7 linked regions of the Homo sapiens genome follow. The protein of the gene in region 2 purifies or fractionates together with the protein of the main gene of each other region. This does not show direct contact. Each region holds a gene or a part of one and is shown on either strand. Other genes may lie near its edges.

Region 1 (3,500 bases), on a different chromosome or scaffold from region 2:
CCAAAATTAACACCCTTACGGGGAAAATGTTATTACCTAAGAATTTTGTCTAACACAACATCACCTTTCTAAGAAGTAACAAAGGACACTCTGAATGTCCTACAAGATTCTGAAATGAAAAACCCTAAAGCCAAGTCTAAGATCTATACTGGTGGTATCTGGGGTCCCAGTCAGTTATTAACTGGCCATGACTGATGCTGTTTCTGTCAATATGACTGGCAGACATGAATGAATCAGGCCTGATTTCAAGTTTATCTCACCAGGACCATTCAGTGATGGGAAAGAAGAAGGTCAGCCATGGCTTTTGCTGAGGTCCTGCTTACCACTTCTGGCAGACACGAATTTTTCTTTTTACGTTCCTTTTTTGTTGTTGTTGAGACAGGGTCTGTCGCCCAGGCTGAGTGCAGTGGCATGATCACAGCTCACTGCAGCCTTGACCTTCCAAGGCTCAATCCTCCCATCTCAGCCTTGTAGCTCGGGCTACAGGTACAAGCCACCATACCTGGCTGATATTTTAATTTTTTGTAGAGACAGGGTTTCATCATGTTGCTCAGACTGGTCTTGAACTCCTGGATTCAAGGCCTCAGCCTCCCAAATTACAAGTTTGAGCCACCACACCTGGCCGTGAATTTTTCAACAGGGGATTATTTTCATCTGATGTTTAACTCACATAGGAAAAAAGAAATCCCAAACCTAAACTTTGGATTTGGCCTGTCTCTACTGTCACACTGTCTTATTTTGCCAGAAAAATCAAAGCCTATTCCACAATTAACGAAAGCCTAACAGTTATAAATCTTTCACACAGGCTTCATTTCTAGAGTGCAAATCACACTTAGTAATTTCAGTCCTAATTACCCTTCATCCTCATCCTACAAATAGAGAGGAGCAAGCTGCCCTCCACAAAGCGTCCCCAGACCACAAAGATACTGACACAATCAACGATCTAACCCAGAGCCTCCTGGGGCCAGTGGACATGCGAGGCCCCTCTGAGCACATTATGGTCCAAATGGATGAGACACTCCTCAGCAGGACTCCTTGAACTGTCAGGCAGATAAAGCCTTGCCTTGAAGCCTGCCCCTGGAGGTGCCCCAGTTCCCTAGGGTGAGGCGAGAGACCATCTTGCAATCAGAGAGCCCACAGCACTCACCTTCTCCTCTGACTTGAGTGCGGGTTTGGTGGGCTGCGCCTGCGGGACTTTGAAACCAAGGATCTCCAGCATGTTCTCGGCTGCATTGCGCTTGGCCACCTTCTTGTTGGTGCCCGTTCCTTCTGCAGTGTGGTTTCCAACCTTCACCTGCACAAAGAAGTCAAAACACAGACCAGTGCTTAAACCTTCAGAATAACAACCAGGCAGGAATTGGTGTGTCAGCAAAATAACCAACTATGGTCAGAAGCAAGATAACAGCAGTGCCCCGAACCTGGCCTCCTTGTCTCTGAGAGCTAATTATTAAATAGTCAGGAGTTTGGGAAGCTGGCTGTTAAACACAGCCAGTATTAAACATTTAATTATATAAGCTGATAATTATTTTAACAGAGGTAATTTTTGACTGCATTTTATAATCATCTGTGTTCTGAGGGTCTGCCCAGCTATTGCATTTGTACAATGGAAACAGTCTGTGATGGTGAACTACTGTACATCTATTCCCAGCATTGCCATTGGAAGTATCACTTTGAGAGCTTGAAATCAGCCATGGTGGGACTATTTATACCACAGAAATATACAAATGCTACGTATCAAAGATCATAAGCTGTTTATTGTCTAACTCTAAACCTACAATGATGAAAAGGTTAATAAAGCAGGTTAATCTTAAAAGCATGAGAAGTCTGCAGCCATTACATTGTAACTAGCACAAAAAACTGAAATATCTTCCCGTCTTTGAAAATTATCTAATTTTGCAGAGAAGCCACTCATATCATTTACAAATGAGTGATGTTACATGTCTTCATTGTTTCACTTTTTCTTTTTTCTTTTTTGGGATAGACAGGGTCTCACTTCTTCACCCAGGATGGAGTGCAATGGCATGATCTCAGCTCACTGCAACCTCCACTTCCCAGGTTCAAGCGATTCTCCTGCCTCAGCCACCCGAGTAGCTGGGATTACAGGCGTGTGCCACCATGCCTGGCTAACTTTTCTATTTTTAGCAGAAATGAGGGTTCACCATGTTGGTCAGGCTGGTCTCGAACCCCTGACCTCAAGTGATCCGTCATGCTGGGATTACAGGCGTAAGCCATCAAGCCCAGCCTGTTTTACTTTCATCTTACCTATTAACATAAATAAAAAACATCAACCAGCCGGGCGTGGTGGCTCACGCCTGTAATCCCAGCACTTTGGGAGGCTGAGGTGGGTGGATCACCTGAGGTCAGGAGTTCGAGACCAGTCTGGCCAACATGGTGAAACCCCATCTCTACTAAAAATACAAAAAGTAGCTGGGCGTGATGGTGGGCACCCGTGAATCCCAGCTACTCGGGAGGCTGAGGCAGGAGAATCACTTGAACCTGGGAGGCAGAGGTTGCAGTGAGCCGAGATCACACCACTGCCCTGCAGCCTGGACAACAGAGCAAGTTGACTCCATTCCCCTCTACCCCAAAAAAAATGTATCTCAACCAGTATTCATGCTACAACCAAAATCTCAAATCTACAGTATGTATTTGTCAGTGACATGAGCAACACCTTTGCTGAACTGGATAGTAATAAACCATTATGTGCTGTCTGATTTTATAACACTATCGTTGGTAACTGTCACACTGAAATATGTATGAAATTTACAATAAAGTGTATATTATTTATAAATTGTACTACACATCCTTTCTGTCAGTAAAATTTATAAAACACACATATATGTCAGTATAATTTATAACACACATCCTTTGTGTCAGTAAAATTTATAACACACATGTATATAACACCCATGTATATATCTATAACATACATATTCAGCTCATTCCACCAAACCACCCTCCCCGAAGAAGAGCTGGTTGTTAAACATGTTCCAGCACATCACTACTTACAACCCCCTTCCAAGTTGATTGTAATAACAGGCACCTGGCTGCTAAAACCAAAAGCCCAGGTCACAAGACTCAGAGAGTCAAAGAAACCATTCCCTGGCCTGGGACTAAATTCCAACCTGGCCATCTACCAGCCATTTCATCTTGGGCAAACTACTGATCCTCTCAGCAAACTGCAACTTCCTTTTGTGGAATGAAAGGATCATTCTTTTCCTACCTTCTGACTGCATAGGTAAAATATACGAGGTCAACTTTCTAAGTTATAAATTGCTATACAAGAGATAAGGATTCTGTCTTACATCAGAAAGCACTTAAATTCAAATCACAATTAAGTTAAGCTGCCTATGTGAAATGACCACTTAGCTTTGAACTTAATCAGCTAAGTACAAAGAAATGTTCCATACTAATCTGAAGTGTCACCCAATCTAAGGAAGAGGTAACCCTAGATTCCAGACTCCATAAGAATTAGGAGGAAGAGGAACAGATCTCTTGAT
Region 2 (3,500 bases):
CCTCCCTCCAACTGCATACTCTGGGATATCAAGTGGAAGAGGGCCTTTCTCTGATTGGTATAGGCCTCAAGTCCTCAGAGGGGAAGGTATGAGGCTGTCAAGGTGAGGAGTCATTAGGAGGAACCTGAATTTCCAGAAGTAAAAGAGGATTCATAGAGCCCTAAGAGTGCTGTCTTTCCTGATAGGGGTCCCTGGGGAAGATACATCTGAGGCCTCCCTAATATCTTTATCAGGAATGTCAGGGATGTGAAGGCCTTGCTTGGAGGGGATAGGTTTCAGGTAAGCAAAAGGAGGGCAATCAGACCCTCCAAGAAGCAAAAGTAAAGACTGAGGACTGAAAACTAATTACCTCAAGATAAAGAGGGTCTCACCGATCTCTGCATTGCTGCCATTCCACAATGTCCCCCTGCAAATGTGGTCACATGAGATTCCCCCTCAATTTCTTGTCTGGGGAGTCAAGGATATGAGCGCTTTGGAATGAGGGAGTCAGCATCAAAACAGTTCAGCAGTGAGATAACAGGTCCTGCCAGAAGTCAAGGTGATGGCCCTGAATGTGAATTGAAAGAAACATCGTCTACCCCAGAAAAAAAGGAAGCTCCATAGAGTCTGGACCTGCCAGTCACTGTATCAGTCCCAGTAAGATGCAGGTAATACTGGCAGGCTTCAGCAAAGGTACAGTCTAGTTACTTCCACTGATTCCTCAGGGGAAAGGCCCTTCAGAGAAGAGTAGCCTCATAGGATCCTTGAACAGTGTTCTCAAAGAAACCTACAGAAGCAACTTCCATAAAGTCAAGGTGATATCTTCCTGCTGGAGGATCACACCTTCTTTCCTTGAGGTCACTTCATCACCTGCCATCTGTCTCACACTACTACTTACCTCTGAGCAGAGTCATAATGCCTCGGGGTCAGAAAAGTAAGCCCCGTGCCCGTGAGAAACGCCGCCAGGCTCGAGAAGAGCCCAAGGACGTGGAAGGTGCTCAAGTCACTGTAGCAGAGGAAGGAGAGTCCCTCACTTCATCTCCTCATTTCAAAGATAGTCCTGAGAGGTCATCTGCTGTCGAAACACCCAGCAATGAGCAAGAGCCTGGGATAGCTCTAGCCATCACCACTGCTGCAGCTGTTTCATGCACAGCATCTAATGAAGGCATCGACAGCCAAGTTGAGGAAAGGTCAAATGCCTCACAGGCCCAGGCTACCACTGGGCAGTGGCCCAGAGGCCCTATAGATAAGAAGATTGCTATGTTGGTGCATTACCTGCTGTACAAATGTCAAATGCAAGAGCCCATTACAAAGGCAGATATGCTGAAAAATGTAATCCAGACGTAAAAGAGCCTCTTCCCTGAGATCCTGAGGAGAGCTTCTGATCACCTGGAGTTGGTCTTTGGCCTTGACGTGAGAGAAGTGGATCCCAACAAGAGCATCTATGTCCTTGTCAACAAACTAGAATTAGGCCATGACACAAGAGTGAATCCTAACAGAAGTTTGCCCAAGAATGGCCTGCTGATGACCATCCTGAGTGCGATCTTCAGCCAGGGGAATTGTGCCCCTGAGGAGGAAGTCTGGAAGGTGCTAAATATGATGGGGGTATACGAGGGACAGGAGCACGTCATCTATGGAGAGCCCAGGAACCTCCTCACCAAAGATTTAGTGCAAGAGCAGTACCTGGAGTATTGGGAAGTGCCCAACAGCAGTCCTCCAAGCTATGAATTCCTGTGGCGTCCACGAGCCTATGCTGAAACCAGCAAGATGAAAGTCCTAGAGTTTTTGGCCAAGATCCATGGTACAGTCCCCAGTGCCTTCCCATCCCATTATGAAGAGGCTTTGAAAGATGTGGAAGAGAGATCCCAAGCCAGAATTGCAGCCAGGGCCCGTACTGCCACCATGGCCAGTGCACGTTCCAAGGCCACGTCCAGCAGCCTTGCCTGCTCCAAGTGAAGGCTGAGGAAAATGCTTTACTGTGTTTTTGAAGAGGACAGTCAGTGTTTCACTAGTGGAGGGTTGGCTGTGTCTCGTTATAACATAGTACATAACATGTTCTGGGTAACTTGGATATTTAAACGTTGTTCCTTTTAATAGAAGGTTAAAGTAGCTTAAGAATCCAAGATTATAAGTGATAGTAAGTCATACATTTATTGATGTTTGTGAGGTTTTAGAGTAGAGTTTTACTATTTTATAGAAAAAAATGGGAAAATTTCCATCTTATTTAGTGATCTCCAATGAGATAACATAGTAGTGGATTAGCCATTTCCTTGGAAATATTTTTTTAAAAAAGCAGTAAAATAGTTGGGATGAAGAAATAGAGGTAAAATGTAAAAGATGATAAATGCTTTCATTCCGTTATGTTTAGTCTGTTCTGTAAAATTAAGAGATAGATACTTAGATATGATTAGTTTATTCAACAATGTAGGAGAAGGAACATCATAATAAAACTGACTTCTTGCACACTGGCTCACTTATTTCTCAAACATTACTTGGGCATCTGTTCTTTGGAGGGAAGGCGCCATGCTGGTACTGGGAATGTCAGGATAAACAAGACCCAAGGGCACGCACTGAATTGTAGAGTCTAAGAGCAGCTGTCATGTAAGGAAGATGGTGAGATATACCCTAAGAAGTAAAGGATGAGTAAGAGAAGGTGGGAAGATCCAGATCAGAGCAGTCAAGTGAAAATGTCCTGAGGCAAGTGGGTTTGGGGCCTTAGGAAACTGCAAACCCTTCAGTGTCAGTCAATTTTGTTAGTCTGGATAGTGGGTTGGTTGAGGCTGTGGGAGTACAGAGCAGGGGCCAGATCCTCAAAAAGACTAATGCCTAGAATGAAGAAGTGCTTTTAGCAGTTATTTTGAGGTAATAGATAAACCAGAAATAATTGTAAGATGGGAATGGAAGGTGTCTTGCATCCTTTTCCAGTGTCATTTTTCCAGTGCAGTTGGGCACAGTCCACAAACTATGTTTTATGCACATCAGCTCCAGGGACCTTCTGAGAATCAAGGGTGACCTGACATGAATGTGCTCAAAAGCCATTGTGCTGGCATTATTTGCTCTGGCCTGGGAGAAACAAGAGCCCACTAAACCCACTTAATTAAAAGGGCTTTTAAAAAAACTTGTACTTTAAGTTCCTGGATACATGTGCAGAATGTGCAGGTTTGTTATATAGGTATGCATGGGCCATGGTGGTTTGCTGCACCTATTGACCCATCATCTAGGCTCCCTCCCCCTGCCCCTCACACCCCAACAGGACCCGGTGTGTGTTGTTCCTAAAAGGGCATTTTTATTAGGTTGTCTTTAGTATCATTTGGCAAACTCAAGTGAGGGCTAGATTTTTGATGCGAGTGAAAGAAATGAAAATAGGGGTGGTTTGGATGGAAGGATAGTTGAAGGGATGGAAGGAATTAGTCTTTGACATAAATTATAGGAGTCTTGAATCCAACTGGGGAAGACTACCCCACACCCGCAATAAATAAGAAATCCTCAAATTTGCAAAGTAAATAACTGAGTTTTACTTG
Region 3 (3,500 bases), on a different chromosome or scaffold from region 2:
AACACTTGCCTTCACTTGCTGTTTTCATTTCCTCACACACACATCACCCCTCCCTATTGGTTCTTTTTTGTTGTTGTTAAGGCAAAATCCACATAACATAAAATTAACCATTTTAAAGTGTACAGTTCAGTGGTATTTAGTACATTCATGTTGTGCAACCATCACCTCTAGTTCCAAAACACTTTCCTCACCCTAAAAGGAAACTTAATACCCATTAAGAAGTCTGTCTCTCCTCCTCCTACCCCCAGCCTCTGGCAACCACTAATATGCTCTTTTCATGTGTGAATTTACCTGTTTTGAATATTTCTTATAAATGGAATCATATATAATGAGACCTTTGTGCCTGGCTTATTTCCCTTAGCATGGTGCTTTTGAAGGTCACGCACATTGTAGCATATATCAGTACTTCCTTTCTTTTTAAGGCTAAATAATAGTCCATTGCATGTACCACGTTTCATATCCATTCAACGGTTGCTGGGCATTTGGATTTCTTTCCCCTTATGGGTGTTGTGAATAGTGCTGCTGTGAACATTCAGGTGCACAAGGTTTTGTTTGATAAGTGGAATTGCTGGGTCATATGGTAATTCTTTTTAATGTTCTCCACATCAGCCACACTATTTTACATTCCCACCTGCAGTGTTTGAGTATTTGAGTTTCTTCACATCCTCACTAATACTTGTTTTCCATTTTCGGATTATAGCCATCTTCGAGGGTATGAAATAGATTCTCATTGTAATTTTGATTTGAAGTTTCCTAATGACTAATGACATTGAATGAAGTGTTTTTTGGTTTTTGTTTGTTTGTTTTTTGTTTTTTTTTTTTGAGATGGAGTCTTACTGTTGCCCAGGCTGGAGTGCAGTGGCATGATCTCGGCTCACCACAACCTCTGCCTCCCAGGTTCAAGCAATTCTCCTGCCTCAGACTCCCAAGTAGCTGGGAATACAGGCGTGTGCCACCATGCCCAGCTGAATTTTGCATTTTTAGTAGGGTTGGGGTTTCACCATGTTGGCCAGGCTGGTCTTGAACTCCTGACCTCAAGTGATCCACCTGCCTCAGCCTCCCAAAGTGCTGGGATTACAGGTGTGAGCCACCACACCCGGCTGAACATTTTTTCATATGCTGATTGACCATTTGTATTATCTTTTTGGAGAAAGGTCTACTCAAGTCTTTTGCCTCGTTTTTCAATTACGTTGTTTGTCTTTTTATTATCGGGTTGTTAAGAGTTCTTTATATGTTCTAGATACCAGATGCCCACATCCACTCTTGATTCTTTTGGATTGATCCTGTTTTCTTTTCTCTCCTGTTTTCTATTTATTTTGTTATACCCTCTAATTTCCTTGACCTTGAATTCTGGTTCTTATTACTTGGTTTTCTCTTATATTTTTAATTTCTAAAAGTTTTTCTTTTTTTTTTTACTTTTTTTTTTTGAGATGAACTCTCACTCTGTCGCCCAGGCTGGAGTGCAGTGGCATGATCTCGGCTCACTGCAAGCTCCATCTCCCGGGTTCGCGCCATTCTCCTGCCTCAGCCTCCCTAGTAGCTGGGACTACAGGCGCCTGCGATCACACCCGGCTAATTTTTTGTATTTTTAGTGGAGACGGGGTTTCACCATGTTAGCCAGGATGGTCTCGATCTCCTGACCTCGTGATCCACCCGCCTCGGCCTCCCAAAGTGCTGGGATTACAGGCGTGAGCCACTGCGCCTGGCCTACTGTTCCTTTTTCATAGCTTTGTGTTCTTTGTGTTTTGTAAATGCCCCTTGAGTCATCAACTCTGTGTTCTTAATGGGCATATATCTTCTCCTAAGGGTATTAATTACAATTTGCTTTTGAAATTTTTATTTATGGTATGTATTATCTGTCTTTCCTCTTGGAATTCCCTCCCAAGCCCTTCCATTCCTTTACTTTTGTCTCTTTCTTTCATATTAGAAGCTTTTCTCAAATGTCTGGTGATCAGTGGTCATTGTTTGTATTTAAAAGTGTGGCACTACAATGATGATTGGAAGCTGGAGGGAGACAAGGTGTGGGAGAGGGTCTGTCAACTGCTAGATGTATAGAAGATTTGGAATGGCTCCAGGAGGTTTTATTCGGAGATCTCCTGTATCAGAATCTGTTAAGTCTTTTTTTTTCCTCATCATCCCCAGAGAGAAATTATCTTATGTCCTGCCTGGGGAATTCTGGATGCCCTTATTCTTAGATATTTTAGGAGCTAAAGGGTGGTGAGACTGAGACTGAGGGAGTCTCCCCATTTAGTAATCTATTTGTTATCAATTTGGCTCTCATCTCTACCCTCAAGTTCATGTTTTTCCTTATTTCTACTCTTTCAACTGCCTGCCTGATTTCTTAAGCCATAAACCTAGTAGTCATCCTTGATTCCTCTTTCCTTTATTCCCCACATCTAAACCATTAGCAAGTCTTACTGATTGTCCCAAAAATACATTAGAAATCTGTATCCATTTTTTTCCTGCTTTCACCTTGATTCAGAAGGCCGTCATCTCTTGCCTGTACTATTATAGGAGCCTTTTTACTTCTCTCTTCCGCTCTTGTTCCCTTCTCATTTATCTTCTACATATCCACCAGTGTGATCTTTTCAGAAGGTAAATCAGTTTATATCACTGCCATGCTTAAAAACCTCATTATCTTAACATGTTCTTACCAGCGCCTACCAGTTCTTTTTTTTGCGGGGAGACAGGATCTCACTTTGTTGCCCAGGCTGGAGTATAGTGGCTGTTCACAGGCGTGACCAAGCCCACAACATCCTTGAACTCCTGGCCTCAAATGATCCTCCCACCCCAGTCTCCCGAATAGCTGAGACTACAAATGCCTATAGATACTATACCTGGCTGAGGTTTTCTTTCTGTTTGCTGTGTTATTCTCCCGTCAACAGAACACTGTAAACTCCGTGAGGGCTAGGAGTTCATATGGACCACTATATCCCCATAAACTAGAACAGCACCTAAAATAATCATTCAACACCTAGTTATTGAGTGGCTGTTATATACCAGACACTATTCTAGATACTGTGGAAACAATGGCAAATATCTAATATAATGCCAGGTAGTCGAGATAATAGAAGACTTTGTGTATCCTGATAAGGAGGTCCCAGTGAGGGACTCTGAGCATGTCCTTCACAGTGGAGAAGGTGATAGGTGTACCACAGCATGTTTGCACTGAGCTTCCTGCCAAGTCTCCTATCAGTAGAGCTGGATCTCTGGGTGTTACCTAGCTAGGAAAAGTATGCCAGCCCCAGGATGTGTCCAGGTCTTCTCTGTTGAGTGCCTGTCTCTGCCATTACAACCCTGCTGCTGACTACTCCATCGAGTTCATTAGAAGTTCGTTCTCAGTTCATTATAATTTAGTTCAAGTTCTTAAGAAATGGCCAGTCATTCCTAATCAGTTCATTACATCTAAGGTGTATCCCTTAGAAGTGTAGGTATGCTTACTGAACTCAAGGAATCACTTAATATGAGAAATGTTGTTGTAACTCACATGTGCTCAGAAC
Region 4 (3,500 bases), on a different chromosome or scaffold from region 2:
TTAATGGCTGAGAGGTAAAGGCGGTTTTCCAAGTGTTGTGCTGTTTTTGGTGGAGCCGCGTCCCCACCTCACCCCGCTCACGTCCGCCTGCTCTCCAGGGCACCTCTGCAGGGAAGCAGGAGCTGCAGGGAGCACTGGGGGGCGGCTGTTTGATGACCACTCGAGATCTATGGTTTTTACCCTTGAGCCCTAAAATTAGTGGAAATGGGACTATTTCAGTTCCATATGTGTTTATAAACGGACAGAAGGAAGGCTTCCAGTCACAGTTGGGGATGGAGGAAGTGGGACCAGACGACAAAGGTAGTGGGCGCACCAAGTACCTCAAGGGAGACAGGAACTTTCCTCGTGGTAGAATGTCAGGAAATTGCGTCCGCCAGTCATACTGTCTGAGAATCGCCAGCAGGACTCTGGCCCAGCTGGCACTGGGTGCTTGTTGATGGGTTTCTGTCTTTTTAGGAAGCAGAGTCTTTTGTGTAGAGGAAGAGGACAGTGAAAGCAGTCTTCAAAAGAGAAGAAGGAAGAAGAAGAAGAAGCACCACCTGCAGCCTGAAAATCCAGGCCCAGGGGGTGCAGCCCCATCCCTGGAACAGAACCGGGGCAGGGAGCCCGAGGCCTCTGGGCTGAAAGCCCTGAAGGCACGTGTGGCCGAGCCAGGTGCAGAGGCCACGTCCAGCACTGGGGAGGAGAGTGGCTCCGAGCATCCTCCAGCCGTCCCCATGCACAATAAAAGGAAACGGCCACGGAAGAAGAGCCCGAGGGCCCACAGGGAAATGTTGGAATCAGCAGTGTTGCCCCCAGAGGACATGTCTCAGAGTGGCCCGAGTGGCAGTCATCCTCAGGGACCTAGAGGGTCCCCGACAGGTGGAGCCCAACTCCTAAAAAGGAAGCGGAAACTTGGAGTTGTGCCCGTCAATGGCAGTGGCCTGTCCACGCCGGCCTGGCCTCCATTGCAGCAGGAAGGCCCTCCCACAGGCCCCGCAGAGGGGGCGAACAGCCACACCACGCTGCCCCAGCGCAGGAGGCTGCAGAAAAAGAAGGCAGGGCCCGGCAGCCTGGAGCTCTGTGGCCTGCCCAGCCAGAAAACAGCAAGTTTGAAAAAGAGGAAGAAAATGAGAGTGATGTCAAACTTGGTGGAGCACAACGGGGTGCTGGAGTCCGAAGCTGGGCAACCCCAGGCTCTGGTAAGGTGGGAGCACCCACAGGCCAGCTCGCCACAGAGGCACTCACTCGCGTCCATGGGGCTCCACTGCCTCCTGAGAGGAAGGGTGGGGGCTGGCGGCCAGGCCTCTGGACTCAGCAGCAGTTAGAATAGGGTGTGTTCATAACAGCCTTCACTAAGGAGGAAATCACAGGTGACCAGTACTTCGGTCCTCCTCATCGGCCACCTTCACTCCCTTAGGCCACATGCTTGGGTTCGGGAGGGCCCACTCCAAGCTGGGAAAGTTATCCCTTGGGCCAGGCACTCCTGCCCCAGGCGTGTTCAGGCCAGTCTAGGCCTCTGTCAAAGGCAGGTCTGGTTTTCTTCATCAGCGCATGGCCAGTCCAGGCCCCTTTGGCAAAAGAGGAAGCCCAAAATTCTCTTGCTTCACTCACCTTCTTTTCTATATTCTTTTCTTTTCTTAGCTTCCCCCCTACCCCCCAGCTCAAGAAACTTCACTAGCAGGACCACTTATCTTCTTAATGGAAAGACTTTCCTTCCACTTTGATTTCTAGAGCCAGATATAAATGAGGAACCAAGCTGTTGATCTGGTCTTGGGTCTGGCTGTGTCACCCAGGCTGGAGTGCGGTGGCACAATCTCGGCTCACTGCAACCTCCACCTCCCAGGTTCAAGCGATTCTTCTGCCTCTGCCTCCCAAGTAGCTGGAATTACAGATACACATCACCATGCCCAGCTAATTTTTGTTATTTTTGTAGAGACAGAGTTTTGCCTTGTTGCCCAGGCTGGGCTCAAGCAGTCCACCTGCCTCGGCCTCCCAAAGTGCGGGATTACAGGCGAGAGCCCCCGCGCCTGGCCCTGATCCGCTTTTCACACCACCTCTGGGCGCCCTGGGCTTCCAGGCCAGGGCCGGCAAACGTAGTGTCACTGCAACAGAGCCACATCCACTTGTATGTGCAGGTCTGTGGCCACTTTCATGCTGCAGCGGCAGAGGGGAGTGGTAGAGACAGAGACCTGCGGTCTGTAAAGCAGAAAATAACTCTGCCCTTCACAGAGTTTGCGCACCTTGGTCACCTCTTGGTTTGCACACACCGCTTTGCGGAGATTATGACATCTCTTGTTTAAGTGGACATGTGTGGACCTGGTGAAGCGCTGGTTTGGGGCTAAGAGTGTCTGCAAGTGGCTAGTGAGTGAGTTTATGGTCAGGAAAGCCTTACCCAGGGGCAGCAGTGCACTGAGCTGGACGGCAGGAGGCCCATTTCTAGCCTCGAGTCTCTCCTACCTCACAGTGCCGCCATCTCCTCCCTGGACTGCAGCCTGCCCCTCGTACCCTCAGCGCTGCTCCCTCACTAAGAGGGCCAGAGACATTGCCTTTCTTGCTGTCGTCTCAGGCCCCTGGCAGCCTATTGTAAAGAGGATGGGGTGTTGCTCAATAAGTCCCAGGGTCAAGGGAAGCTTTCCCCTGCCATCTGTCATGGCACAGGGAAGGCGCACAGGAGAAGCTCCTCGGGCTTCCCTGCCCTCCAGGCGGCACACTTGAACCTGCCGGAGCCACCCGTGTGTCGGCAGCGGCACTGGGCTGCCCACACCTCTGAGAGCCAAGTACGAGACCCGGTCTCTCTCTGGGTGGCTGTCAGTTGCTGCACACGCAATGAGTGTCCTGGGCCTGCCTGTGAGGGACCCACAGCCCCACATGGGCATCACTGTCCTCCACACCAGACTGCCAGCGCAGTGACGATTCAGCTACAAATGGGAGAGTCGATCTTATTAACAGATCGGCTTTGAAAGGCCAAAATCCCCATTTTGAAGATGAAGATAAAAGTGGGTCCTTACTCTGACGAGGCGTTTTCATCGCCCCTCTTGGCATGGTGCCATGATAGCGGTCGTGTTGTGCGTGAAGCCTGAGCTCTGCCGAATGGAAGGGCTGTCTGCAAGTGCGGTGCGGAAGACCGCGGGCCGTCGGGTGGGCTGGATCTGCCTGGGGCTCTGCCTTCCCCTCCTGTGTGTGTGGGCAGCACAGGAGGCTCTGTCGTCTGACCCCTCCTCCGCTTCTCACCCCTCGCTCACGTAGGGAAGCAGTGGGACTTGCAGTTCCCTGAAGAAGCAGAAGCTGAGGGCAGAGAGCGACTTTGTGAAGTTTGACACCCCCTTCTTACCAAAGCCCCTGTTCTTCAGAAGAGCCAAGAGCAGCACTGCCACCCACCCTCCAGGCCCTGCCGTCCAGGTACGCACCCTCCCCAGAGTGGCACAGCACATTTCACCACAAGGGCACAGATGGGCTTGAGCTGACAGTGCTTCCCATGCCGGGCCTGGAGCCCCACTGTGGCCCTCTGAGCCTGTCCA
Region 5 (3,500 bases), on a different chromosome or scaffold from region 2:
CAATAATATCTAGTTCTTGTTTTTTTTGTTTTGTTTTGTTTTGTTTTTTTTCCCTGAAATAGGCAGAAAGTTTAATGAAAAAAGTCTCATATGTAGAAAAAGTTAATCCCTTGAGCTAGCTTGTAGATTCTACCACATTTGTGTATGTTTGGGACCCTTGGCCTTGCCTTTTTTTTTTTTTTTTTTTTTTTTGAGTTGGAAAGTCTTGCTCTGTCCCACCGGCTGGAGTGCAGTGGCACGATCTCGGCTCACTGCAATCACTGCCTCCCAGGTTCAAGCAATTCTCCTGCCTCAGCCTCCCAGGTAGCTGGGATTACAGGCACATGCCACTACACCTGGCTAATTTTTGTATTTTTAGTAGAGATGGGGTTTTGCCATGTTGGCCAGGGTGGCCTTGAACTCCTGACCTCAAGTGATCCTCCCACCTTGGCCTCCCAAAGTGCTGGGATTACAGGCGTGAGCCACCATGCCTGGCACCGGCCCGGCCTTCTTTTCTTCCCATGGCTACCTTTATGCAGCCTGTAGCTATTTCTAGTATTGGGTGTGGGGGTGATGTGGTTTGTTAACCAGAGTCTGTAAGGCTTAGAATTCCACAAACTTTATTACTCTGCTAATGGATCATAGGCAGGGCATCCCTTTGTGTCCTCCAGTCAGTCACGAGACTTCAGGGGAAGAACTGAAAATTTGTGGACCTTTGTGGTAGTATTTATACCTTCTGAACCAGGGGCATCCAATCTTTGGCTTCCCTGGGCCACATTGGAAGAAGAATTGTCTTGGGGCACACAGAAAATACACTAACACTAATGATAGCTGATGAGCTAAGGGAAAAAAAAATTGCAAAAAAAATCTCTTTATGTTTTAAGAAAGTTTACGAATTTATATTGGGCCGTGGGTTGGTCAAGCTTGTTCTAAAGCTTTGTTTACCTAGGACCATGTGGAGAAACTGGAGTTTAGATTTGGAATTGCCTTTTCTGTACTTAGCCCTAATTATTGTACCCTTTGGGTCTCCCCCAACCCCTTTTTAAAAAATAAGGTCTTTTCCTTCTGCTTTATAATTAGAGGAGGAGTTAATTTCTGAAAAGCAGTTGATTTTTATTGGGTTTATTTGGTAAGGAAATAACACTTATTCAAACTCAAGGATTTCTAAAGAGATTAACTATAGGATTCTTAAATTGATTTCAAAAGGCACTCTTATCAAGGACATTATTGGAAAGTCCTGAAGCATTTCTTTTTTTTTTTTTTTTTTTTGAGATGGGAGTCTTGCTCTGTCACCCGGGCTGGAGTGTAGTGGTGGGATCTCGGCTCACTGCAATCTCCGCCTCCCGGGTTCAAGCAATTTTCCTGCCTCAGCCTCCCGAGTAGCTGGGACTACAGGCACACGCCGCCACGCCCGGCTAATTTTTTTGTATTTTAGTAGAGACGGGGTTTCACCATGTTGCCCAGGCTGGTGGTGAACTTCTGAGCTCAGGCAATCTGCCTGCCTTGGCCTCCCAAAGTGCTGGGATTACAGGCGTGAGCCTCCGCACTTGGCCAGTCCTGAGGCATTTCTGGACTTCATTCAGTTTTATTTCATTTTGACCTTTGTTGTTGTTATTATTACTTGAAGACAGCAGCTCCAGATCATTTTTACATATTTTGTAACTACTTTTACTTAGCGGGTATTTAGGTTGTTGTTGAAAAGAGTTGCATATACAATTTTAGCGATATGTGAATAATCAGTTCCATGGTCCTCCATGCTGGTGTCATGTTATTTACATTGCTCGAGAGAAATACTGCTGTGTTCTGTATGACTTCACATACTGTAATGGTAGTGTTCTCTACAGTTCTTAATTTATTTTAATTCAGTGCACATTTATTAAGCACTGCCTGTGGCATACAAAGATGAACACGTCACACACGGTCTCTGCCCTCTAGGTGCACTTACTGAGTACTCCTATTTTATTGTTTCTGTTAGGTTTTATTACAGAGTCTCATTCTCTTGCCCCCCACATTTATACATCTGTAAATTCTGTAAGAAGCAGTGCTCTATTGATTTCTTTTTTCCTGCACTGATTCTGCTTTCCTTTTTACTGGGATCCTAAAAATAGATTTTTCTGAGAAGATCTGCTAAGTGTACAGTATGAGTGCTAGGTAAATAGTATGAGAGTCTTTGGAATTTAAGATTGTTTCATGATATTTTATACAATTAAGAAAAGTTGTTTTCAGTAGTGTTCCAGAACAATATATTATTCTTCTAAGAGATTCATTGATTCTCCACACCCCTCGTATTTCAGTATCATTTGGTCTATAAACTAATCTATTGACAAGAGTTGTATATTCATTGCTTACATTATCAAATTGTGTGAGGATATGGATTAAACAACCTTTGTTAAGGTACTGATGTCTGTAGAAACAGTAGTATGTTAGAATTTCAAAAATACCGGGAAAAATAGTTTGCACTTTGTCCCTCATGGCTGTCTGTGTTGCAGGTGAATTGTTAATATCTGTCAGATTTTTTTTTATTTTTTATTTTAACTTTTTACATATTTTTGTTGAACTTTTTTTTAATCTTAATAGCTTTTGGGGTACAAGTGGTTTTTTTGGTTACATGGATTAATTGTAGATTGTCAGAATCTGAGATTTTAGTGCATCCATCACCTGAGTAGTGTACATTGTACCCAATCTATAGTTTTTACCCCTTACCCCACCCCACTCCCCCTTCTGAGTCCCATAGTCCATTATACCACTCTGTATGCCTTTGCGTGCCCATAGCTTAGCCCCTGCTTACAAGTGAGAACATACAGTGTTAGCTTTTCTATTCCTGGGTTACTTCATTTAGAATAGTGGCCTCCAGTTCCATCCAAGTTGCTGTAAAAGACATTATTTCATTCCTTTTTTTGGGTGAGAACTATTCCATCATGTATAAATACCACATTTTCTTTACCCACTTGTTGGTCGATGGGCACTTAGGTTGGTTCCATATCTTTGCAGTTGTGAATTGTACAGTTAGATGCTTCTTAGGTTCAAAATATTTCAGTATTCTGGAATATTTGGAAATACAGCATATTATTCTTTGGAAGGGATTTTCCTGCCACTTGTGTTTATTTCCCTTCTAAATAAGTTTAAAGTGTGGAAATGCTTTTGAGTACTAGAACTTGTACTTATTTTTGCTGAAAGACAAAGAAAAAAAGTTATATATCCAGCATATTATTAATTCTGAGCTACAGCATATGCAGATTTATAGTTGACATTTTCTTAGAGTTATTTATACAAACATTGCTTTAATACTAGAGGTCTCAAAGATTGTCCTGGTGGTTTTTGTTAAAATGTAGATTCAGATATAGTAGGTTTGTGTGGGGCCTGAAATCCTTCATTTCTAACAAGCTCCCAAATGATGCCACTGTTACTGGTCCCAGGCTACATTTTAAAAGTTTTTATTTTGACCTAATTTCAGATTACAGAAAAGTTGCACGAGTAGAGTTCTCTGATATCCTTCATCCAGACTCCCTGAATGTTAACAT
Region 6 (3,500 bases), on a different chromosome or scaffold from region 2:
CTCGTAATTTCATTAGTTTTTTTTGGTTCTTTTTTTGTTTGTTTGTTTTGTTTTTTTTGTGGTTATTGTTTTTACTAACCAAGTTGATGAGGGAAATGAAAGTAGTTCAAGAGTAAACACATCTCAGTTTCTGCCCTGAAGTGATTTCTGACAATTTTATTCAGTTTTGTACTTGTATTTTACACAGGAGAAATCCACTCATCCATTCTCTTCACGTGTCCATTAATGTCAGTCCTTCCTAGTCTGTCTTTAAAGCCCCTATCAGCTAGATACTCAGTGTCCAACAGTCCTGCTGATGCTACTTTTAGAATTCTGGCCCAGTAGAGTATTTCTTTGATGTAAAATTATTCCTCTTCTCTGTTCTCAGGTCGCTTATGATGAAGCTACAGATGAATTTGCTTCTTACTTCAACAAACAGACTTCTCCCAAGATTCTCATCACAACATCAGATAGACCTCATGGGGTAAACACATTGATTAATTTAGTTCTTGAATTCTTAATTTTCTTATTACTTCTATTTAAAGTACTCTGTTCAGAAGAGTTAAACCATTAGTTAATTGCCTTAAAGAATGCCTGTGACTAAGTAAATAAAACGTAGCTCTGGTAATATGATGTAGGTTTACTAAACATGATTCTTCAAGATAGGATTTCTCAACCTCAACATTGTTAACATTTTAGCTGGAGAATTCTTTGTTATGGTGAGCTATCCTGTTCATTACAGGATGTTTAGCAGCTTCCCTGGCCTCTATGCTTTAGGTGCCAGTAGCAACCACACACCACTACCACTACCATCAGTCATAACCATCAAAAATGTCTCCAGACATTGCCAAATGTGTCCTCTGATGGAGCAGAATCGCCCCTAATTGAGAACCACTGCTTTAGGATGATCAGCCTTTGATAAAAGAGGACACACTGTTCGAGTTTCATGCTTTCCTCAATGTTGCTTTCTATTAATCATAATAATTATTATTTCTTTCCTTATGAATATGTACCACATAAGATTTTTATTCTTTTTTGAAAACTATTCAAAATTTTTGTTATTTTGTTTTGCAGAGAACAGTACGACTCTGTGAACAGCTCTCCACAGTTATACCAAACTCACATGTTTATTACAGAAGAGGACTGGCTCTGAAAAAAATTATTCCACAGTGCATCGCAAGAGATTTCACAGACCTGATTGTTATTAATGAAGATCGTAAAACCCCAAGTATCCTTTTTTTTTTTAAGGAGGTTTTCCTGTCCTCTCCCTCACCCCCCTTAAAAATATATTTAAAAGAATAAGGAAATATTGCCTATAACTTTCAGAAAATAATTTTTTTATCAGAAAATTGTATCTCTTTCCAAGAGTCTATAAACTGATTTTTCCTTTGTATTCACCAAACATTTATCAGGCACATGCTACAGCCAAGAGATTGTTGTAACTCTTAGTAAAAGATGCAGAGCTAAAACAAGAGACAACCAGGAAATTCATAGGTGGAGTAAATGGATATGTAAACTGACAAAATATAGTGTGGATGGTACAATTAAATAGAGAAATGCAGGATATAGTGGGGACCCTGTGACTGGTACAAAGTCTGCCCTGGGAGGAAAGACTTCCCATAGAAAGAGATGCTGAAGCTGGATCTAGATGGATGAGGGTGAAGGAGGGGAATAAGGCAGAGAAAAGCGCTCAGTGCAGAGGGACTACCATTTGGAAAGAGAGGAAGGAAAGGGCTGACCTAGTTGGGGATCTGCATATGGTTTGTTGTGGCTAGATTTTACATTGCCAGAGGTGGTATCACAGGATTAAGTTTTTGAGGTAGAGACTTGGGCCCATGTTATGTGTGTGTTCCAGTCTAAAACTTTTTCTGTGAGTCTCAGACCTGAGATGAATGTGTCACCTGAACCCAAGGTATTTCTTCCTGTTGAGATAAGAGATTTGATAAAGGATATCTAGGTTTGTTATTATTGTTGCTGTTTTATTTATTTATTTATTGAATGATGGCTATGAGTTCAGTAACCTTAAAGATGACCAATTGAATGAGTCATCTTTATGATTTTTAATTTCATTAAAATAAAATTATAAAGAATTTACAAAATAGGGACAAGACTTTCTGTGCTGCCAGAATAACATTTTATTTCTAATATCAGTGAACACTCTATTAGTGGTTTAAAAGGCTGTTTTTAAAAAATCTAACTTTTATGACTTTAATTGTTATCAATATAACTTACTTTATCCACTTGTACTAGTAGCTTTCCAGAAACTACTATAACAAGCTTTGTAATGTGTTTTGTTGGCCATATTATAATTTGGCTTAACTGGATTAATGTACCAAAATATCTAAAATCTCTTGAATACTTAACTACTCCAGAAAAAAATTATTTTTAAGGTAGTTGCTGCCTCTTTTTCTTTTTTTAAACTGCCTCCACAAAGTGGCAAGGTCTGTTTTCCTCTTTTTATTTTTGGCAGTTAAAAAACAACTGTCATCACTTTGAGGCCACTAGTAACTCTGCTAAGAAGCAGGCATTCATCAATTCAATAAATGTTCTATCCCTGTTTTATCCAGGGTGTTTTATATAGTCACACAAATTTCACTTATACCATCTATTGCCTTTAAAAAGTTTACATTTTCTGGCCGGATGCGGTGGCTCACACCTGTAGTCCCAGCACTTTGGGAGGCCTAGGCCAGCAGATTGCTTGAGGTCAGGAGTTTGAGACCAGCCTAGCCAACACAGCAAAATCCCATCTCTACTAAAAATACAAAAATTAGTTGGGCGTGTTGGTGCATGCCTGTAATCCCACCTACTTGGGAGGCTGATGCACTAGAATTACTTGAACCCGGGAGGCAAAGGTTGCCATGAGCAGAGATGGTGCCACTGCACTCCAGCCTGGGTGACAGGGCAAGACTCTGTCAAAAAAAAAAAAATGGTGATTATCCTAGAGACTTAGCATGGGTTCAGGAATAAAAATCACAACTCCTAATGGTGACACATGGGGGGAAAGTTGAAAAAACAGGATTTAGCCTGTGGGAAAGTAGATTCTAGGAACATGGCGTCTTTCTAAAGACCATTGGAGGGGCTACTGTGTGGAAGAGTAGTGCTGAATGGTGAAAGTTAAAGGGATATACTTTTTTGACTTATTCTAAAATAGAATTTCATCAGCTGTCTAAACTGTAGAAACCTAGTAGTGGCTTTGAGTCAGGGCAGCTGTGATATCAAATACAGATTCCATTATTTTCTAGTTTTGTGATTTTAGTCACGTTTCTTAGCCACTCAATTTCCTCGTTTTTTAAATGTGGGAAATAATACCTATCTTTAGAGTTCCCACAAAGATCACATTAAATGTATTATGTTTATAAAGCATAGTGTCTGGCACATGGTAGGCATTTTAGTAAACGTGGTATAGTGAGAAGCATGTAAACTTTATCTGTACAGACCTACATCCTCTATTCATTATTTCTAAATGGGGAACTACTGTTATTTGAGGTAGGGTAATTATTTGTGCTACACTCTTGGCAGCT
Region 7 (2,912 bases), on a different chromosome or scaffold from region 2:
AAAGGCTTGGAATTGAAACAAAACCTGATAGAAGAGGTAAGAGGTTGTTCTTTTCTAGAGCTTGCAATTGTTTGGTTTATAAAGGTAGGTATAGGACTGTTGGCCAGGGATAGGACTGTTGGCCAGGGGAACATACTAGTGGGGAAAAAAAAAAAATCTCCAAGCTGCCAATCCAGGCCTTTTTCCTCCAGCAGCAGCACCAGCAAAAACTTCCATAGTGATGATTTCCAGCTTTGACTAGCTCGTACTCTGTGCCCTGTCCTGCACTGTGTTTCTTATGCGTTGTTCCACTCCATCCTCATAACATCCCTGTGATGTGGGTACTAGGTGATGATGTTGCTGTTTTGCATTTGGGGTCACTGAAGCTTACAGAGATTTGTTAGCCTGCCTAATGTCAAAAAACAGGAGGCCAGGAATGGTGGGCCACGCCTGTAATCCCAGCACTTTGGGAGGCCAAGTGGGTCAGACAGCTTGAGTCTGGGAGCTCAAGAGCAGCCTGGGCAACATGACAAAACCTCATCTCTACAAAAAGAAAAGAAAAAAAAACTAGCTGGACGTGGTGGTACGCAGCCTGGGCAACAGAGTGAGACCCTGTCTTTAAAAAAAAAAAAAAAGAGCTGGGAGATTTACCAGGTGTAGGTGACTGCACCAACCCACTGTCTGTACAGCTTCTGACCTGCCAACCTGGGCTGCAGGCTGGGTGAAACAGTCTCCTCCTGCACAATGACTCCACTCCTAGAGGCTGCCTCATGGTGGCTTTGGCCAGCACCACGTGCAGAGCAGTACCGATCAGCTGCCTCCCCTTATAACAGAGAGGCTCCATGTGTTTCCATGTAGCAGGACCCTTCCTAATGTGGGTGAATGTTTCTAGGTTAACAGCTGATGATCAGTTCCACTGTTGGTCATAAATAAGTGAGAGACCTGGAAAAGGCCGTGGGGTGTAGATCCATGGCTCAGCCTCCCCTGTGGTTAGGGATCCTAATTTCAGTAATGGAGGTAGGAGACAACCAAATTAGAGGCCTCCAGTTCTTCCAGTTTCCATAGTTGTCAGGGGCCCAGAGCAGATTCATTCTCATCTGAGGCCAGAGTAGTGCCCGTTGTATGCTGCTGCTTGAACTCAGAGCCTCGTGAATTGTCCCACAGCTTCGGAAATGTGTGGACACCTACAAGTACCTTTTCATCTTCTCTGTGGCCAACATGAGGAACAGCAAGCTGAAGGACATCCGGAACGCCTGGAAGCACAGCCGGTGAGCGGGCAGGGGGAGGAAGGCCCTTCTGAGTGGGGACCCGGCCAGGCTGCTCTCAGTCAAAGCACAGGAGCAATTTCTGACCCTTTAGGTGCCTGGGTCATGCCGCTGACACCTTAATAAGGACAAAGTGCTACCTGCCACTGAAGAGCACTTCCTTTTCACTGTTAAAGCTGGTCTTGGGCAGGGTGCGGTGGTTCACGCCTGTAATCCTGGCACTTTGGGAGGCTGAGGCAGGGGGATCACCTGAAGTCAGGAGTTTGAGACCAGCCTGGCCAACATGGCGAAACCCCTTCTCTACTGAAAATACAAAAATTAGCCGGGCATGGTGGCAGGCACCTATAATCCCAGCTACTCAGGAGGCTGAAGCAGAAGAATCACTTGAACCCATGAGGCAGAGGCTGCAATGAGCTGAGATTGCACCATCGCACTCCAGCCTGGGTGACAGAGTGAAACTCCACCTCAAAAAGCAGATTTTGCACTGAGCTCCTAGGGGCAGGACTTGGCAGTTGCTCAGGAGATGTTTGAGAGGTGGGCCTTTCCGGAGAAGTGGCCCTTTAACCCTGGACTGTGGGCCATTTAGGAGCATCACACCAGTTTTAGAATGTCAGTAGGGACACTGCGACACAGACAGTGACCTGGGAGCAGGATGCAGGAGCCACATGGCAAGTTTCTGTCCTGGGGCAGGTGGCTCTGGTGGTGGTCTCTTGCCGCACCAGCTCTGGTTCAGGCTGTTAACATGCCTCCCGCATACATCCAGATAGAGAACTGGTACATGATGCTCGTGATGGGCTGGGAGACAAAATGTTGCCATGTCAGGAGTCTGTGGGTGGGAACATAATGAAAGGGACCCCAACGTGGGGACAGTGTGGCCAGGCAGCATGGAGAAGTGGGTGCCACTGGCTCAGCCTGGGCCTGAGCTCACTGGGGACCGGAGCTACTTTGCATGTTGCTGAGGGATGGGGAGGGCAGGGCTCTTCCTTCACAGAATGCTCTTTCTCTTGCTTGGTAGGATGTTCTTTGGCAAAAACAAGGTGATGATGGTGGCCTTGGGTCGGAGCCCATCTGATGAATACAAAGACAACCTGCACCAGGTAAGTCTCTGGCCCTCACGGGGTGGAGCTAAGGCAAAGCCGCCCTCTCTCCCACTACTCCCATGTGACAGCCTCCCCCAGCCATTGGCAGGCCGGAGGCTCAGGGAGAGCAGGGCCTGGCTTAAAGCTCTGGGTTCTCCCTTCACCTCCGGACCCAAGGAATAGCAGCTTCCTGCCTCCCACTCCTTCCTGCTATGACAACCAAAAACGTCTTTAAATGTTGCCAAATGTACCCGGTGAGCAAAAACGTGCCTAGTAGAGAACCACTGCTCTAATGTGACCAAGCTGTCCTCACTCCTGATTTGTAGGTCAGCAAAAGGTTGAGGGGTGAGGTGGGTCTCCTGTTCACCAACCGCACAAAGGAGGAGGTGAATGAGTAAGTACTGCTGAGGAACGGAGGGAAAGAGGCGGGTGAGAGGGGATTTCAGGGAGGGAATGATGCAGGAACTTCGTTCCATATGTGGCATCAAGTTGGAACTGCTCCTGGAAGCCTGTCACTGAGCTAGTGGCCTGGGACCACAGCCCTCTCTGTCCTCTCCAGCATGGTGCTCTGGGCTGGCTGCTGGCCAGC

What was found.
Region 1: the proteins of MAGEB10 (region 2) and STAU1 purify together in Homo sapiens (affinity purification with mass spectrometry; 2 studies listed by BioGRID and IntAct, with this or other methods). This does not show direct contact.
Region 3: the proteins of MAGEB10 (region 2) and LLPH purify together in Homo sapiens (affinity purification with mass spectrometry; 2 studies listed by BioGRID and IntAct, with this or other methods). This does not show direct contact.
Region 4: the proteins of MAGEB10 (region 2) and RRP1B purify together in Homo sapiens (affinity purification with mass spectrometry; 2 studies listed by BioGRID and IntAct, with this or other methods). This does not show direct contact.
Region 5: the proteins of MAGEB10 (region 2) and RSL24D1 purify together in Homo sapiens (affinity purification with mass spectrometry; 2 studies listed by BioGRID and IntAct, with this or other methods). This does not show direct contact.
Region 6: the proteins of MAGEB10 (region 2) and RPF1 purify together in Homo sapiens (affinity purification with mass spectrometry; 2 studies listed by BioGRID and IntAct, with this or other methods). This does not show direct contact.
Region 7: the proteins of MAGEB10 (region 2) and MRTO4 purify together in Homo sapiens (affinity purification with mass spectrometry; 2 studies listed by BioGRID and IntAct, with this or other methods). This does not show direct contact.

What each region holds. Positions count from the first base shown.
Region 1 is NC_000020.11:49,118,835-49,122,334, forward strand, and holds part of STAU1 (double-stranded RNA-binding protein Staufen homolog 1), read right to left. Parts: intron 1,295-3,500; coding exon 1,148-1,294; intron 1-1,147. UniProt on the Homo sapiens protein: Binds double-stranded RNA (regardless of the sequence) and tubulin.
Region 2 is NC_000023.11:27,810,990-27,814,489, forward strand, and holds part of MAGEB10 (melanoma-associated antigen B10), read left to right. Parts: intron 1-3,500.
Region 3 is NC_000012.12:66,124,251-66,127,750, reverse strand, and holds part of LLPH (protein LLP homolog), read left to right. Parts: intron 1-3,500. UniProt on the Homo sapiens protein: In hippocampal neurons, regulates dendritic and spine growth and synaptic transmission.
Region 4 is NC_000021.9:43,687,060-43,690,559, forward strand, and holds part of RRP1B (ribosomal RNA processing protein 1 homolog B), read left to right. Parts: intron 1-456; coding exon 457-1,181; intron 1,182-3,228; coding exon 3,229-3,381; intron 3,382-3,500. UniProt on the Homo sapiens protein: Positively regulates DNA damage-induced apoptosis by acting as a transcriptional coactivator of proapoptotic target genes of the transcriptional activator E2F1.
Region 5 is NC_000015.10:55,186,942-55,190,441, reverse strand, and holds part of RSL24D1 (probable ribosome biogenesis protein RLP24), read left to right. Parts: intron 1-3,500. UniProt on the Homo sapiens protein: Involved in the biogenesis of the 60S ribosomal subunit. Ensures the docking of GTPBP4/NOG1 to pre-60S particles.
Region 6 is NC_000001.11:84,489,266-84,492,765, forward strand, and holds part of RPF1 (ribosome production factor 1), read left to right. Parts: intron 1-367; coding exon 368-463; intron 464-1,053; coding exon 1,054-1,207; intron 1,208-3,500.
Region 7 is NC_000001.11:19,254,805-19,257,716, forward strand, and holds part of MRTO4 (mRNA turnover protein 4 homolog), read left to right. Parts: coding exon 1-36; intron 37-1,143; coding exon 1,144-1,247; intron 1,248-2,259; coding exon 2,260-2,341; intron 2,342-2,649; coding exon 2,650-2,717; intron 2,718-2,912. UniProt on the Homo sapiens protein: Component of the ribosome assembly machinery. Nuclear paralog of the ribosomal protein P0, it binds pre-60S subunits at an early stage of assembly in the nucleolus, and is replaced by P0 in cytoplasmic pre-60S subunits and mature 80S ribosomes.